Homo sapiens: one gene and its partner. The protein of the gene in region 1 interacts with the protein of each later gene in a pairwise test. Each region holds a gene or a part of one and is shown on either strand. Other genes may lie near its edges. The genes, in order: ITSN2 and KIAA1549.

The links.
Region 2: the proteins of ITSN2 (region 1) and KIAA1549 interact in a two-hybrid assay, tested with the Homo sapiens proteins (one study listed by BioGRID and IntAct).

What each region holds. Positions count from the first base shown.
Region 1 is NC_000002.12:24,349,305-24,358,848, forward strand, and holds part of ITSN2 (intersectin-2), read right to left. Parts: intron 1-9,544.
Region 2 is NC_000007.14:138,914,429-138,923,972, reverse strand, and holds part of KIAA1549 (UPF0606 protein KIAA1549), read left to right. Parts: intron 1-4,534; coding exon 4,535-7,225; intron 7,226-9,544. UniProt on the Homo sapiens protein: May play a role in photoreceptor function.

The DNA of each region.
Region 1 (9,544 bases):
AAAGCAAGGTCTCACTTCCCCCAAATATTTCAAACCACAAATTTACAAATTCTTTTCATCAACCTGAATTATTTAATTTGAGTGGTCATAGACTTTTTTATTTTAATCTGATAAAACCTATGGTTGTTCTCCCTGGAAAAACACAAATGTACAAAATATGGCACATAATTCTGAAGGTTTCACACATCCAAAGCCAACTGTAGACTTTCAGACAGTTCATGTGTTCCATAGCTTAAATGTTTAATGATAACATACACAAACCCTCATTCTTAAAAAAAGATAATGAAGTGGGAAAGACCCTTCCAATTATGTAATCCACTCATTCCCAAACTATTTTTTTAAAGGAATAAAAGAATGGCTACTCCATAGGCCGAGCAGCAGCCTCATTCCCAAACTATTCTAACCATCACCCACCTAAGTAAGACAAGAGATCCAGCCTACCTACCTCCTCCCATTTTCTAGTGCAAAAATAACTCCCTAAGGAAGAATTGTAGCAATGTAACAAGTACACAAGAGCAAAACGGTCCACAAAAATTTAAATGTAACATTAATTCTACAATTGTATTAATCCAAAAATAACAGCAACTGGAACCACAGCCAATTTGAGACAACACCACTGATGTAGTGAAAATATCTTCTGAGTGTGGGCATGCATAGTACTAATTTTCTAGTGCTGCCAAAGCATGGTATAGCTGACAGATTTCTTAGAAGAAAACTAAACTAGAGCCCTCGGTAAGTTCTAGAAACCAGCTAATTTTAGTTGTGAATACTAAATTTCAGTAATCCTTAGTAACTCAGATTATTGGTAGGTAGCCTATTCTAATACATAAATATCAGAGGTTATGGGAATGGAATAACAATAGCCCCTGAGAACTGAGGAGACGGCTTGTATTTCTGGTTCATGATCCATTAGGAAAAGCTTCTGATCTAGTGAGTGTCTTGGACCATACTGAGGAAGCATTAATCTAAGCCAATAATTTTCAACAATTTTTCCACTGTGATTCTGAGTAATGGCTCACCAATAGTATAAAATTAACCTCCTAAACTGGAACCCACATACATTGCTGGTGGGAATATAAAATAGATCAACTGCTTTGGAAAACAATTCAGAATTTCCTCAAAATGTTAAACATAGGTTACCATGTTAAGTCAGCAATTCCACCCCTCAGTATGAACCCAAGATAAATAAAAACATGTCCCAAAACCTGTACACAAATGCTCACAGCAGCATTATTCACAATAGCCAAAAAGTAGAAGCAACCGAGTGGAAGCAAATGTCCATCAACTACAGATGGATGAATGAATAAACAATAAACAAAATGTGGTATATCCATATAATCCATAAAATATTATTTGGCCATAAAAAGGAATGAAGTACTGATCTATGCTATAACATTGATGAATCTTGAAAACACTATGGTAAGTAAAAGAAGTGAGTCACAAAAGACCATATATTGTATAATTCCATTTATATGAAATGTCTAGGATAGGCAATTTCATAGACACAGAAAGTAGACTAGTGGCTACCTAGAGCTAGCGGTGTTGAGGGAGATGGAAAGTGACTGCCATTGGGTATAGGAGGTTCTTTTAAGAACGACGAAAATGTTCTAAAATTAGATAGTGATACTGGTTGCACAAGTCTGTGAATATACTAAAAAACACTGAACTGTAAACTTTAAAAGGGTGAATTTTACAATATGTATCTCAATAAAGCTGTTTTTAAAAAATCTATTCACGTGACATACAAGGTGTTTTAGGCTCTATCTTCCGCCTACCCTACCAGGTATTTCAACCTCCCCACCTCCACCTCCACTTGATCTTATTCCCATGCCTCCTCTCTTTGCACCTGTGGAACTACCTGCCTTCTGAGTGACACTTCTACTAATAATAGCTTCCTTTGCCACAGTCCCATTTTGTCTTGTATTATCTCATTAAACTACATACCAGCTAGTATTGTTACTTTTGTTTTCACGCCTGCCCCGCTTCTATTAGACTGTGAGCTCCTGAATGGCTCTTTAACTTCATATACCTAGTGCCCAGCAGTCACTCACATGGTAGGCACTAAAATATTCTTTAATAAGCACAGGTTAGCATTCTTTCAACTGCACAGAAGACAAACCCAGCAACTTGAGTTTGAATCCCAGTGCAAGTACTTCCTAGCTTTGTGGACTTGCACATGACATAGCTTCAATTTCCTAACCAAATAATGTGGATACAGTAGACCCCCTTATCTGCAGTTTCACTTTCTGAAGTTTCAGTTACCTGTGGTCAACCATGGTCTCAAAATACAAAATGGATAATTCCAGAAATAAACAATTCATAAATTTTTAATTGTGCACCATCCTGAGTAGCATGGTAAAATCCTGCATTGCCCGCATCTGTCCCAACCAGGATGAAAACCATCCCTTTGTCCAGGGTGTATCCACTGTGTCTATGCTGCCTGCCCATTAGTCACTTAGTAGCTGTCTCAGTTATCAGACCGACTGTCACAGTATCACAGTGCTTGTGTTCAAGTAACCCTTATTTTACTTAATAATGACCCCAAAGTGCAAGAGTAGTGAGGCTGGCAATTCGGATATGCCAAGGAGAAGCCACTTCCTTCAAGTGAAAAGGTGAAAGTTCTCAACTTAATATAGAAGGGAAAAAATTGTATGCTGAGGTTGCTAAGATCTACAGTAAGAACAAGTCTTATATCTGTGAAATTGTTAACAGTATATTGTTATAATTGTTCAATTTTATTATTATTAATCTCTTACTGTGCCTAATTTATAAATTAAACTTTATCATAGGTATGTATATATAGGAAAAAACATAGTGTATATAGGTTTCTGTACCATCCATGGTTTCAAGCAACCACTAGGGGTTTTGGAATGTATTCCTTGCAGACAAGCAAAGTACTACTGTAATCGTACCTAAATGCCAGGTTATTTTAAGGCTTAGATGTCATGTCTGGAAAACATCTGGCACATAGAAGGTGTCCATAAATTATGATTATTACAACAATTATTTCAACATTATTTTAATTATAATCACTAATCAACTTTTAGTTGTAATCACAATCACTAATCACTAATCTAATTTGTTTTACTGAAACAAATTAGAGTTGTGCCAATTATTAATAAAAGGACATGTTTTTCTCACTTTAATCAATATTTGAGAAAAAAGTTATCATTTCTATCTAGAGGCTTAGGGTCCCAAATATACAAAGCATTAAGACCTAAAAGCCTCAAAGAGGATAACTTCTCTATACAAACTTAGTTCTTAATTCTAGTTCTGCAATTTAGCAACCTCAGTTTAGATTTTTAAACACAAATTATAAGCTCAGATTTTTATAAATATTGAGTTTAGCCTTCAAAAAAATCAACCAATAAGCCAGGAGACATAAAAGGACAGGAATAGCAAACTAATACTGAAGTGGTTAGTACTCAAATTCTATTGAAGATTTAAATCAAACCAATTTTTGAAGAATAGTCAACAACTCTGAACAAGACAATTCACCCACACAAAGGGGGATAAAAATACCTAAGAATAGCTTGTGACTCAGCCTGCATTCCTATAAGGGGTCCCAGGGGGACTGATAATATTTAGCCTATTGTCATCTGTCTCATATCAGAACTAAATATTACAGCAAAACTATTTACTTGACATGAATAAAAAGTACAGAGGGAAAGAAATTCAGACAGATGCTTCACTTTCAAGTAAAACATCACCTCTTTGAAACAAAGACAACTTTTAAGTTTTGAAGCCATACAAGAAAACAAAAGAAAGAATAAGCAGATTCTATATCATCTATATAACAAATATTTAAAACTTCCTTGAAAACAAACTTAAAAGGTAAATGGGGAAAAATCACAACACATGATAAGCAGTTGATATTTTTAATGTACATAGGGCTATTAAAATAGATAACGAAAACACTAAGACCTCAAATAAATAATCTACGAAAGAAGAAACAGAAGAAATAAAAGTAGTTAATAAATGTTAACATCACTAATAATTAAGAAAACGAGGCTACCCACAGTGGCTCATGCCTGTAATCCCAGCACTTTGGGAGGCTGAGTGGGGGCGAATCGTCTGAACTCAGGAGTTTGAGGCCAGCCTGGGAAACATGGTGTAAACCTGCCTCAATAAAAACTACAAAAAAATTAGTTGGTCCCAGCGGGAGGCTGAGGTGGGAGGATGGCTTGAGCCCAGGAGAAGGAGGTTGCAGTGAGCTGAGATGGCAGTGAGCTGAGATCCCGCCACTGCACTCCAGCCTGGGCAACAGAGCCAGACCCTGTCTCAAAGACAAAACAAAACAAAACACTGGCCAATACCCAGGGCTAGCAAAGGTGAATTAAATAGGGTGCTTGCAGGTACAGCCCATGGGAATACGTATTGGTATCACTCTTCAGAAGGCACTGTGAAAACATATATCAAGAGTCCCACCAACATTCATATCCTATAAAGCAATAATTTCATTTCTGGGAATCTGTCATAAGGAAATAACAGTAAATGTGGGAAATGCTTTAATTACAAAGATATGGCAGCATTAGTAATCATTGAAAAAAACTAAAAATGAATGTCCAAAAATAAAGGAATATACTAAGCCAAGTATCATGCTTCCACTTAAAATCAAATTCATATGATATGTGAATTAAATCTCAATAAAGCTATTTTGTGATCAAGTTCAGTTAGACCACATAATAACATGGAAACTGCTTATGTTCTTACAATTTAAAACTTACATTTTGATATAAATGTGCATATTTATTATGAAAATTAAAACAGCAGCCATCAATCATCAATATTTACTAAGTGCCAAGCCCTACACTACAAGTTGTTACATGTTATCATGGTTACCTCATTATCACTGATACCATCACCAGGCCCATCCTGGAAGGGTCTCAGGCCCAAGGCCATCACCAACTGTGGGGCTGGCCCAAGATAAACCACACTTTAAAGAAGGCTTCACTAAACATTTTCATAGGCCCCTTGAGAATGTTAAAAACAAATTTGGAAATTGAGCCCAGTGGGATTGTGGGTCTGTACTACCCTACTTTTCAGCCTTCTTATATAGATTATTCCGATGGTAAGATTAAAAATTAAGGGCAAAAGGCTAATTTCCTTTCCAGTCACGGTGTAAAACAAAGACCAAAATAAGAACTATGTTAGGTTAGTTTGAAATTTCTCACTGAACCAAGTTAAAACAACAGGTAACATTAGGCACTTACACTAAGCAGAAGTCACTGTGCTAAGCACTTTATATTACATATAACAACACTAGGAACTAGCTAATATTTCCCCATTTCACACATAAGGAAACAGAAGCTGAAGAGAATTAAAGTAACTTGCCCAAGATTATACAGTTATTTGGTGTCAGAGCTGGAAGCAGGTCTAACTTCAGAGGCTGTACTCTTATCCTCTATGGTTATGATGAAAATAAATGAAATTTTTATTAAAATCACATATACTTTATCTAAAATGAATACGCATTCGTGAAGAAAATGATCTTAAAAATATGAAACAGTTAAATAAAACAAATGTTTACCGTCTGGTAATAGTCCCCTAATCCACTAAATGTCTGCCATAATCCACTGCTGAATAGCTCCACAAGTAAATAAATCATTTAATGTCCTGATGTATCTATGAAATTATATTTTAAGTGAACCTTTTGAAACAATACTATACATTCTGCAAATGAAATATGCTGCCCTCTTGGAGCTGTGAAAATACATATTTCTTGATCTATTAACTGTCCTAATTCTGTTCAGTTTCCTCCCTTCCTCTCCCACTTCCTCTTTGCTCTCATATCCTTTAAGACCAGTTCAGTTCCTCCTCCTCAAGAATACCTATATTCACACTTTACCCAAGAGAACTCTAACATTAGTTTCTGCGCTCCACAGCTGTAGGATGTTACAAAATCCAAAAAATGAACTCAAGTAAAAAATACAGTATTTCTGATGTACCTTCAACTTTAGATCTATCCACTTACAGAATTAATTATAAACATTCTTATTTTTCTACTTCACACTTGGAATCCTGTCTTTAAAATCAGCACACAGTAACCAAAACAGCATGGCACTGGTACCAAAACAGACATATAAGCCAATGGAGCAGAACAGAGACCTCAGAAATAACACCACACATCTACAACCATCTGATCTTCAACAAACAAGACAAAAACAAGCAATGGGGAAAGGATCTCCTATTCTGTAAATGGTGCTGGGAAAATTGGCTAGCCATATGCAGAAAACTGAAACTGGACCACTTCCTTACACCTTATACAAAAATTAACTTGAGATGAATTAAAGACTTAAATATAAAATCCAAAACCATAAAACCCTAGAAGAAAACCTAGGCAATACCATTCAGGACATAGGCATGGGCAAAGACTTCATGACAAAAATGCCAAAAGCAATTGCAACAAAAGCCAAAATTGACAAATAGGATCTAATTAAACTAAAGAGCTTCTGCACAGCAAAAGAAACTATCATCAGGCTGGGTGCAGTGGCTCATGCCTATAATCCCAGCACTATAGGAGGCCGAGGTGGGAGGATCACCTGAGGTCAGGAATTCCAGACCAGCCTGGCCTGCATGGTGAAACCCTGTCTCTATTTTTAAAAAATTACAAAAAGGCCAGGCATAGTGGCTCACATCTGTAATCCCAGCACTTTGGGAGGCCGAGGCGGGTGGATCACCTGAGGTCAGGAATTTGAGACCAGCCTGGACATGGTGAAACCCCATCTCTACTAAAAATACAAAAATTAGCTGGGCATGGTGGCAGGCGCCTGTAATCCCAGCTACTCAGGAGGCTGAGGCAGGAGAATCACACTTGAACCCCGGAGGCTGAGGTTGCAGTGAGCCAAGATCGCACCATTGCACTCCAGCCTGGGGGACAAGAGCGAGACTCCATCTCAAAAAAAAAAAAAATAGCTGGACGTGGTGGCACATGCCTATAATCCCAGCTACTTGGGAGGTGAACCTGGTAGGCAGAGATTGTGGTGAGCCAAGATGGCACCACGGCACTCCAGCCTGGGAGACAGAGCAAGACCCTGTCTCAAAAAAAAAAAAAAAAAGAAAGAAAAAAAGAAACTATCATCAGAGTGAACAGGCAACCCACAGAACGGGAGAAAATTTTTGCAATCTATCCATCTGACAAAGGTCTAATATCCAGAATTTACAAGGAACTTAAACATATCTACAAGAAAAAAAAAACCCCACCAAAAAGTGGGCAAAGGATATGAATAGACACTTCTCAAAAGAAGACATTTTTGAGGCCAACAAACATGAAAAAAGGCTCAACATCACTGATCATCAGAGAACTGCAAATCAAAACCACAATGATGGCCGGGTGCAGTGGCTCAAGCCTGTAATCCCAGCACTTTGGGAGGCCAAGGCGGGTGGCTCATCTGAGGTTGGGAGTTCTAGACCAGCCTGGCCAACATGTCTCTACTAAAAAGACAAAAATTGGCAGGGCGTGGTGGCAGGCGTCTGTAATCCCAGCTACTCAGGAGGCTGAGGCAGAAGAATCACTTGAACCCAGGAGGCGGAGGTTGCAGTGAGTTGGGATCGCGCCATTGCACTCCAGACTGGGCAACAAGAGTGAGACTCCGTCTCAAAAAAAAAAAAACACAATGAGATACCATTTCATGCCAGTCAGAATGGTGATTATTAAAAAGTCAGGAAAACAATAGATGCTGGCAAGTCTGTGGCGAAATGGAACGCTTTTACACTGTTGCTGGGAATGTAAATTGGTTCAACCATAGTGGAAGATAGTATGGCAATTCCTCAAGGATCTAGAACCAGAAATATCATTTGACCCAGCAATCTCATTAATGGGTATATACCCAAAGGAATAGAAATCATTCTACTCTAAAGACACATGCACACGTATGTTTACTACAGCACTATTTACAATAGCAAAGACACCAAACCAACCCAAATGCCCGTCAATGATAGACTGGATAAAGAAAATGTGATATACATACACCATGGAATACTATGCAGCCATAAAAAGGAATGAGATCATGTCCTTTGCAGGGACATGGACGAAACTGGAAGCCATCATCCTCAGCAAACTAACACAGGAACAGAAAATCAAACACCCTATGTTCTCACTCATAAGTGGGAGTTGAACATTGAGAACACATGGACACAGAGGGGAACAACACACACCAGGACCTGTTGTGGGGGGGCAATGAGGGAAGGGGACTTAGAGGACGGGTGAATAGGTGCAGCAAACCACCACGGTGCACGTATACCTATGTAACAAACCTGTACGTTCTGCACATATATCCTGTTTTTTTTGTAAGAAATAAAAAAAAATCGGCACACAAGAAAGTCTGCCTTTCTTCAAAAACAGTTTTTTCACAAATTTTTTCCATAAATAAAAAAGGTACTAAAAAAACTTGAATCCAAAAAAAGAAAAAGAAAATGCACCGTTAGATGGTAATAAATATATCACATTTTTGGTAATGTAACTCGTTTATTCTGAATCATTTCTGGAACTTGTTAATATAAATGTTTTACAAGTAAATACAATATGTAAAAATGCTACTTAATGGACTAATATGTACTTTCACTCATTCACTAAACACATATTTTTTACTGAATGCCCATATAACTTTTTTTTTCTTTTTTTTGTTTGAGACGGAGTCTCACTCTGTCGCCTAGGCTGGAGTGCAGTGGTGCGATCTCGGTTCACTGCAACCTCCGCCTCCCGGGTTCAACGATTCTCCTGCCTCAGCCTCCTGAGTACCTGGGACTACAGGCGCACGCCACCATGCCAGGCTAATTTTTTGTATTTTTTAGTAGAGACAGGATTTCACCTTATTGGTCAGTCTCAAACTCCTGACCTGGTGATCCGCCCTCCTCGGCCTCCCAAAGTGCTGGGATTACAGGCATGAGCCAGGGCACCCGGCACATAGATAACTCTTTTTTAAATGTATGAACCAAGATGACTCTACCAGATAAGGCACAGGTGCTGCAGTTAAAAGGATCTTGGTTTGAAACCTGGCTATTGTACTTACTAGCTCAGAGACCTAAAGTAGTCAAACTTCAGGTTAACATTTCACTTACCTTTTTGATGGGAAGATAATAATTACTCCTAGGGCCTTAGTGAGCTTTAAATGATTATGTAAAACACTTAGCATAGAGTCTAACATGCAGTTACGTGCTCGATAAATGACAACCATGGTAAACATATTTTATACTGAAGAAAGTATAGTTGAAGGAGACAGCCAATATGTGACCCTTTTGTCTTACTAAAGATGGAAATTTGTGAAACTCTACATTAAAACTAAAAATCCTAAGGTTACATGATTTTCTACTTTTTAAAAAAGATATACTAACTACATAAGGTTAAAGGATTTTTTAAAATAAGAAAGAAAAAAAGAAAAGCTTCTTGAAAGCTGCTGAGTTTGGGTGATGGGTACATGCTATTTTTGTGAAAATACAAATTTTTTAACACTATTAATCCAATCCCCAAAACATGCCTAACACACCTCCTCATATTCAGGAGAGATCAAGATTTTAGCCTTGAGATGTACCGAACAATGGTAAC
Region 2 (9,544 bases), on another chromosome or scaffold:
TTAAAAATTCATATGATAGAGAAAGGAATATAACCCTTTAAGCATTTTATATGTGGTTTAAGTTGGTGACTTTCAGATGCTAGGAGAACCAGCTAGAAATATTTTATCTATGGCACTAAATATTATTTACAAATTTTGGTATGTAGAAACAAAAATCTATTCACAGAATTTTGTCTTAACTCTTGATCTCCATCTCTGCTAGTGAGTCAACAATACCTCTGGCTGTCCCTCTTATAGCTTCTATGCATAACTTTTAATTCCATATAATATGTCTTTTGTAAACTCACCAATTACATAGGAGTATTACTGTTCATTTATACCATCAGTATTTGTTTAGATTTAACCATATATTTATCTTTTTTTTTTTCTTTTTGAGATGGAGTCTCGCTCTGTTGCCCAGGCTGGAGTGCAATGGCATGATCTCAGCTCACTGCATTCTCCACCTCCCGGGTTCATGTGATTCTCCTGCCTCAGCCTCTGGAGTGGCTGGAACTACAGGTGCATGCCACCACACCCAGCAAATTTTTTATTTTTAGTAGAGACAGGGTTTCACCGTGTTGGCCAGGCTGGTCTCGAACTCCTGACCTCAGGTGATCCACCTGCCTTGGCCTCCCAAAGTGCTGGGATTACAGGCGTGAGCCACCACGTCTGGCCTTATGTTTATCATTTATTCTCTATTCTCAGATCTTCCTGCTGAGGCAATAACCCTTCTATTTGAAGGTTATCCTTATTTAGAAGCTCATTTACTGTGGGTCTTCTTTTGGTATAACCACTGTTAAGCTGAAAATGTCTTGATAGAGATTTTTCCTGGTTATTCACCTCTGAGATGTCAGAGAGTTTCTCTCAGCACTTGAGGATTTTGTTTCATTGTCACCTGGCTTCTAATTCTGTCAGGCAGTTATTTTTGCTTAAGTTTAGCTGCTGTTTCCTTTTTCTCTGACTGCTTTTACAATTTCTCTTTGTCTTTGGTCTATGGTATCATGATGTGTATAGGTTTGGATTTTTCTTTTTTTTTAATTCACCCTCCTTGGGATTTTTTGGTCTTTCTGAATTGCATGGTTCGTTTCTCATATTAATTTTGGCAAATTCTTAGCACTATGTCTTTGAATATTGTATCTACCCTATTCCATTTTATTTTTTTCCTAAAACTTTGATCAAATGTATGTTGGACTGTCTTATTCTGTCTTCTATGTCTCTTAACTTCTTTTTTTAATATTTCACATTTATTTGTTTCCCTGTTCCCTTTTCTGAGTAATTTCTTCAGACCTATCCCCCAGTTCACTAAATCTTGTTTCAGCTCTGTCTAAATTGCTGTTTTACATGTATATTGAGTTTAAAATTTATTAATTATAAAATTTTTATTTCTAAATGTTTTAAAAATATTTCTGGCCAACTTTTATAGTCTCTTGCTCATTACTCATGTTTTCAGTCTTTATTATTTTAAATGAATTAAATATAACCTTAAAAAATGGGTCTCATAATTCCAATATCTAAAGTTTTTATAGATCTGATTCAATTTAGTTGGCCTTTTAAAAAAATACTTTCTTCATGGGATTTCTCTTGACTTTTGTTCATGGTACTTTGCTTTCCTATGTATTTTATAATTTTTACTTCTGTGCTCTGCAACTCTAGCTGCAGGAATACTTTGAAACCAGACTGTGAATATGTTCTTCTGGGTGTGATTTATGTTAGTTTCTGACAGGCGCTGGAGACCTGGTCCACTTTAAATTATGACTCTAAGCATACAGTTGTTAGGACTATACAAGTAGTATAGGTTCCACACTCGGGATGACGTTTCGTACAATAGCTATACAAAGTCAGAGCTGAGACATATACTTTTCCCTTGTTTGGCTTAAACAGCAGAAATTGATTGTCTCACCGTTCTGGAGGCTAGAAGTCCAAGTTCAAGGGTGGCTTCCTTCTGAAGCCTGTGAGGGAGAATCTGCTTCAGGGCTGTCCCCTAGCTGCTGGTGATTTGCTGTCAATCTTTGCTGTTCCTTGACTTGTAGACGCATCATCATGCTCTCTGCCTTCATCTTCACATGGTGTTCTCCTTCTGTGTATGTCTGTGTCCAAATTTCTGCCTTTTTTTATTTTTATTTTTTTTTGAGACGGAGTCTCACTTTGTCTCCCAGGCTGGAGTGCAGTGGTGCAATCACGGCTCTCTGAACCCTCCGCCTCCTGGGTTCAAGCGATTCTCCTGCCTCAGCCTCCTGAGTAGCTGGGATGACAGGTGTGTGCCACCATACCCGGCTAATTTTTGTATTTTTAGTGGAGATGGGGTTTTGCCACGTTGGCCAGGCTGGACTCGAACTCCTGACCTCATGATCCGCCCTCCTCGGCCTTCCAAAGTGCTGGGATTACAGGCCTGAGCCACCGCGCCTGGCCCAAATTTCCATCTTTTATACGGTCACCAGTATATTAGATGAGGGACCCACCCTACTTCAGTATGACCGCATCTCAGCTAATTACATCTACACTGACCCTGTTTCCGAATATGGTCATATTGTGAGGTCCTGGGATTTCAACATAGGAATATTGGGAGCACGTAATACATAAGCCATAGCAGTGTCTTAACCTGGGTTTTCCGCCAGAAAGCAAAGTCTGAGACGTGGGTTTATGTGCATATTTTATTCTAGGACATGATCCTGAGGAACAGAAGTGAGAGACTGAGGAGAGTTCAACAGGGAAAAGGGAAAGTCAGTCCAAGGTGTTCTCAAGTCAGACACTATTAGAAACCGATGCCTGTTTTTGCTGTCTTCTGAAAAGTGGATATTTTTCTTCCTAATTCACTCTTTCCCTGAGATTATGACACTTCCTGGGCCTCCACTTTTGGAAAATGGTCTTCAGTTGGGTTCTTTCCTTATCTAGGCTAACACTTGTCCCTCATCTCCGTTGTGGCCTAAACAACAGGCCAGCTGGTCCAGTACCTGCCTTGGGTCCCCAGTCACTGCCCTTGAGCAGCTCCTGTTTTATTCCTGGATTCAGCACGTTCCCCTTACTGTCTTGCAGGCCATCCAGTCACTTAGAAGATGGTTTTTAAACATTTATTAAGCAATCTTAAATGTTCTGAAGTAGACAGTTTCAAGATCTCTAGTCTGCCATGTTGCTAGAAACAGAATAGAAATGACTTACTTAAAAAAATAGAGTAAATTCAAGACTGTCCTTATACCATTTCACACAGGTATGTTCTGATAGACTGTTGGGATTAGAGAAACGAGGTGTTGTTATGCATTTTGATAGTTGCTCAGTTCTCAGCCTGGGCTGCAGAGGACAGTCCCTGGGCCCTGGGCTTTCATCAGTGGCTGGGCCATCACTTGTCCTTTTTCTCTAGGCTATGTCATACCTGAATTATCGGTGGAGAGGCCTCAACTTACTAAATGATAATGACAGCAGTCACAAGTTAAGGAATACAAAAGTTTGAATGGATGATGGGATAATGTTGGCTTTTGTTGTCAGAACTTGGTATCCTTGGATTTCATTCATTCATTCATTCATTCATTCATCAATCCAAGTGATGTCAATTGAGCTCCTAGCACTTATTGTGCTAGGCACTGGGGAGACAGGTAAACAATGCCTGTCCTTAGGAAGCCCAGAATCTAGTGATCAGATAGTTCATTTCAGTGGGCATGATAAGGACAGGGAGAAGCCTAGGGAGAGGCACGAATCCAACTTCAGAGCATCGAGGATGAAGCTCATATCTGTGCTGCATCTGAAGGGCCAGAAGGAGCCATCCATATAGAGAGCTGGGGAAGGGCATTCCAGGCGGGGGTGAGAGGATCCATCCATGTAGAGAGCTGGGAAGGGCATTCCAGGCGGGGGTGAGAATGTGCACAGCCATGGAGGCCAGAGAGTGTTTGGGTTTGGGGCACTGCAGGTGCCAGAGCATAGCTGGGAAGGCCTAGAGTGGGGCAGGAAATGGTGAAAGCTGAGGCTGCAGGAAGCCTGGGGCCTTCATGTGGAAGCCTCAGCAACTGTGTTGGGGAGCACAGCTGAGGAACTGGGGAACTCTCTTACTTGGGTAGTGAGAGATGCAATGAGTTGTCATGTTCATTTCTCGTAGCAGCCAGCTCCTATCACTGAAGAGAAAACACACAGGCCTTGGAGTCAAGGAAGCCTTATATTCAGATTCCAGTTCCACTCTGTCTGGGTGGTCTTATAATTGATTTATTTACCTTCTGGAAACCTTTCTTTACTCATGTCATAAATGAGAGAAAATGGACTGAACAGCCCCCTCTGTTTCCAGTATCCTACGGTTCTGTGGGAAAAACTGTAAATATGCCCTCCCCACCCCCACACATACACAGCTTAGGTAAAAACAGTGCCCAAGTTTAGGAATATTTGCAGATATTGTCCTGATGGTAATTCTGTCAATTTCTCGTTTCCAGCTAGCTGTTTAACTTCTGACGGTGATTCATGGATATTTATGGTGAATGGATGTTTGTTAAATGAGTAAATTCTCATGCCTGAAACAAAACGTTAGCTGTGTGACTTCCAATGCATTGCACTAACCCAGCTCTGATTTTCTTGATAGATGAGCTCTCTCCGGAACAGCACAACCTTTCTTTATACTCCATGGAGCTCGTGCTGAAGAAAAGCACTGGGCACAGCGCTGCACAAGTGGCCTTAACAGAAACTGCTCCCGGCTCCCAGCACAGCAGTCCTCTCCATGTCACAGCCCCGCCGTCTGCCACTACTTTTGATACAGCCTTTTTTAACCAAGGAAAACAGACCAAAAGTACAGCAGATCCCAGCATCTTTGTGGCAACTTACGTGTCAGTGACGAGTAAAGAGGTGGCCGTCAATGACGATGAGATGGATAACTTTCTGCCAGATACTCACTGGACCACTCCACGGATGGTTTCTCCAATACAGTATATCACAGTCAGCCCACCAGGGCTGCCCAGGGAAGCATTAGAACCTATGCTCACTCCATCATTACCCATGGTTTCTTTACAAGATGAAGAAGTGACATCGGGCTGGCAGAACACAACGCGACAACCAGCGGCATATGCTGAGTCCGCCAGTCATTTCCACACCTTTCGGTCAGCTTTTCGCACCTCTGAGGGCATCGTTCCAACTCCTGGCAGGAATTTGGTGCTTTATCCTACTGATGCTTACAGTCATTTATCAAGCAGGACTCTGCCAGAGATTGTGGCTTCCCTAACAGAGGGTGTGGAAACCACCCTTTTTTTAAGCTCCCGGTCTTTAATGCCACAGCCGTTAGGCGACGGCATTACTATACCGTTGCCCTCCTTGGGGGAGGTCTCACAGCCTCCAGAGGAGGTTTGGGCCACAAGTGCAGACAGATACACTGATGTGACCACTGTGTTGAGTCAAAGCCTAGAAGAAACCATCTCTCCAAGAACATACCCCACTGTGACTGCATCGCACGCAGCCCTTGCATTCAGCAGGACACATTCTCCATTGCTTTCAACTCCTCTTGCATTTGCGTCCTCTGCTTCACCAACTGATGTTTCATCTAACCCCTTTCTCCCTAGCGACTCCAGCAAAACATCCGAATTGCATAGCAATTCAGCCCTCCCCGGTCCTGTGGACAACACTCATATCCTGAGCCCGGTGTCCTCATTCAGACCATACACTTGGTGTGCGGCCTGCACTGTGCCTTCACCTCAGCAAGTTCTGGCCACGAGCCTCATGGAGAAAGACGTGGGATCAGGGGATGGTGCCGAGACTCTGTGCATGACCGTGCTGGAAGAAAGCAGCATCTCTCTAATGAGTAGCGTCGTAGCAGACTTCTCTGAATTTGAGGAAGATCCTCAAGTATTTAATACGCTTTTCCCCTCCAGACCTATCGTCCCACTTTCTTCTAGATCCATGGAAATCTCAGAGACGAGTGTTGGCATTTCTGCCGAGGTGGATATGAGTAGTGTTACAACCACACAGGTTCCCCCTGCCCACGGCCGCCTCTCTGTGCCGGCGTCACTTGATCCTACTGCTGGCTCCTTGTCTGTTGCTGAAACCCAAGTGACGCCATCCAGCGTGACCACTGCATTTTTCTCGGTCATCACCAGCATTCTCCTTGACTCATCTTTCTCTGTCATAGCAAACAAAAACACACCGTCGCTTGCCGTCAGAGACCCGAGTGTTTTTACGCCTTATAGTCTGGTTCCTTCAGTGGAGTCTTCACTTTTCTCTGACCAAGAACGTTCCAGTTTTTCTGAGCATAAACCCAGAGGTGCTTTGGATTTTGCATCCAGCTTTTTCTCAACACCCCCGCTGGAACTCAGCGGCTCCATCTCTTCGCCTTCGGAAGCACCTGCGTCTCTGTCTCTGATGCCGAGTGACTTGTCCCCCTTCACATCTCAGTCTTTTTCTCCCTTGGTTGAGACATTTACATTGTTTGACTCTAGTGATCTGCAGTCATCTCAGCTGTCTCTTCCCAGTTCCACAAATCTTGAGTTTTCGCAGCTCCAGCCAAGTTCCGAGCTGCCTTTAAACACCATCATGTTGCTACCTAGCCGTTCTGAGGTGTCACCATGGTCAAGCTTCCCTTCTGATTCTCTCGAGTTTGTTGAAGCGTCTACGGTTTCACTGACGGATTCAGAAGCTCATTTTACCTCAGCTTTCATTGAAACTACCTCCTATCTTGAGTCTTCACTCATTTCCCATGAATCCGCAGTCACTGCACTGGTGCCCCCCGGCTCTGAGTCTTTTGACATTTTGACTGCCGGGATTCAAGCAACATCACCATTGACCACTGTCCACACAACGCCCATTTTAACTGAGTCTTCTTTGTTCTCAACTCTGACACCTCCTGACGACCAAATCAGTGCTCTAGACGGTCACGTGTCTGTCCTGGCCTCTTTCTCCAAAGCCATTCCCACTGGTACGGTGTTGATCACTGACGCGTACCTGCCATCAGGATCCTCGTTTGTTTCTGAAGCAACCCCCTTCCCTCTGCCCACAGAGCTGACCGTCGTGGGCCCATCACTCACACCCACAGAGGTGCCACTGAACACCTCCACGGAAGTGAGCACAACCAGCACCGGTGCTGCCACTGGTGGTCCCCTCGACTCCACCCTGATGGGTGACGCCGCAAGTCAGAGCCCCCCAGAGAGTAGTGCTGCTCCTCCCCTGCCATCCCTGCGTCCCGTGACTGCCTTCACTCTCGAAGCAACAGTCGACACACCAACACTGGCTACTGCCAAGCCGCCATATGTTTGTGATATCACAGTCCCCGATGCCTATCTGATCACAACTGGTAAGGCCCAGCTTCCTGCCGCCTCTCTGGGGTGGGCAATCTTTCTAAGGAGCTTGTGTGCAGTGCCTGTGAGGCTTGGAGCTTCATGGTTAAGAGCAGAGGCGCTGGGCTCAGTTAACTCCCAGGTAGTACTCCTATGCTTACCTCCTGCGAGTTCTCAGAACAGTTATTTATCCTCTCTAATCGTCTGCTGCCTCACCCATTAAACAAGGAGCTTAGTTAAACCTGCTTCATTGGGCTGTTGTTCAGATGTAAATGCGTTAGTCCCTGCAGAACGCTCAGCCCTTGCCTAGTACATCAGAGGCATGCACGGGATGGTGCATATTAGTCAGCAGTCACAAGGAGAATAAATATTAGAACAAATACAAGAACTAAACAAGCCTTGGAAGTTCTTGGTAGGATCTTTGTCCTACCATAACCCAGTAGGTGCATGGATGACATAGTTTAAACAAAATACTTTTTTGTTTAATTCAAGCAATGAGTTGGGCAACTATGTAAGGGCAACCCTTGCAATTTCTTACTCATTTACTCTTCTTACTTTTCCTTGAAAGGAGACTGCACTTTGCTCTCATAGGTCCCTGTAAATGCCCCTTGGGTCCCGAGGAAAGAAAAGTAAAGTGACTCTTTGCTCTTATAGGTCCCTGTAAATGCTCCTTGGGTCCCGAGGAAAGAAAAGTAGTGACTAAATATCCTCTGAATCCAGTATCAGCCTTTGGTCTCCTCCCCACCACAGCCTGGGTTGCTAGCAGACTGGCCAGCAGCTTCCCTTGCAGTTGCATGGCTGCTGTGGCCGCGTGAAGCTGGTGCCCACCTGAGGGCATGCCTGAGAGGTAGACTGATTTCAAGGGTCATGTCCCGCGACGGTGGCCCGCTTGGTCAGGGTCTCTGCATTTTTCCTCATGAGACATGACAGGTGTATGTGGTCTCGAGGGTCATGACTGTGTGCTGAACCACAGCCTGGTGGTGACGAGCAGCCTGTCCTCTGTTTTGATTTTGGTAGGAGTGGAGGACAGAAATGAAAAAGGGGACGAAAACGGCAGAAGAGGTAGGGAGGAGTGGGGTGGAGTGGACCGGGAAGGAGAGGAGCAGAGAATGTGGAAGGGGGAGAAGGAGGAGAACACGCTGGGTCTTTTCCTCTCTGTGGTCGGGGTTGCTGGGAGCCTCTGCTCACTGTGACAGTGCCACATCCCTCTGGGCAGGTGGGAGCGAGGATCCTGATGGCAGGTACACGTCAGTGATCAACACCCTACCTGTGGGAATGGCTTTGGAGAATGAGTCCAGGACAGCCTTTGCTCCCCACACGCCAAAGGGAAACATTCGTTATTCCACATGGCAAGTAATGATTGAGCACCTAGTATGTGTGAGGTGCTTCTGGAAGCTTCTAGGGATATACAGATGGGTAAGACACGGCCCTCCTGTGAGCAGCTCAGGGCCTAGAGGGTGGTACTGAACCACAGAGTAATAGCAGTGACTGTGGAATTCTCCAAGAGTGGCTATTTGGGATAATCAGAGACGGGTTTGGAAGAATGTGAAATTGGGGATTCCCACAAAAGGAAAAGTAGAATTGTCATCTGGGGATGAAGAGAAAGTGTCTTCTGGGGGAGGAGACTGTCATCATGGCTGGAGATTAGGCATTGTGATGGGAGGAGCAGGTAATTATGCTTGGAAATGTGGTTGGAGCAACATCATGAACTTGAATCTGAAGATTAGAGCAGTCCAGGGAGGAGGGAAAAGAGTTTCTCATGCTCATGATACTTTTCTTCCTTCTTACAAAATTATTACAAAGTAGGTACAAAATTGTTACAAAGTGGTCAGTTGTAAGCAGCTTATTTAAAGAGTCACTGAAAGCTTCTTTAGGAGTCCTCATAGCTGGATTTAACTTTCATATGTGGTGTACACTTAATGACATTTGGTGCCTGTATTAGGTATCCATGTATTTTTAACAGCTCTTTGGAGTAAAATTCAGCCATTGTTAAGTACACTTGAACAGTTTTTGTAAATGTCCAGAGTTGTGTGTGAGTGTCCATGCTGTTAAATTGTGTCTTTTAGCGGAGATAAGTGCCATTTTTGTTCCTGGTGATACCTTTGACCCAGAGGAAGTATCGGCTCATTTCTTACCTTTGCTTAGGTTGGACCTTGCTGTCCTTTTCATGGTTGTCCGTTAGTGAGAGAGTGTGGTGAGGGGGTTGAGGTGACTCCGCGTACCCCTGAAAGGATTCTTCCTGTGTGCTCTGTGATGATGAAGCGGAGCCACTCTGGGTGCTGGGGGTCTGCGATGGCGGAGGAAGCACTTGCCTGCACGCGCCCTGGGAGGCATGA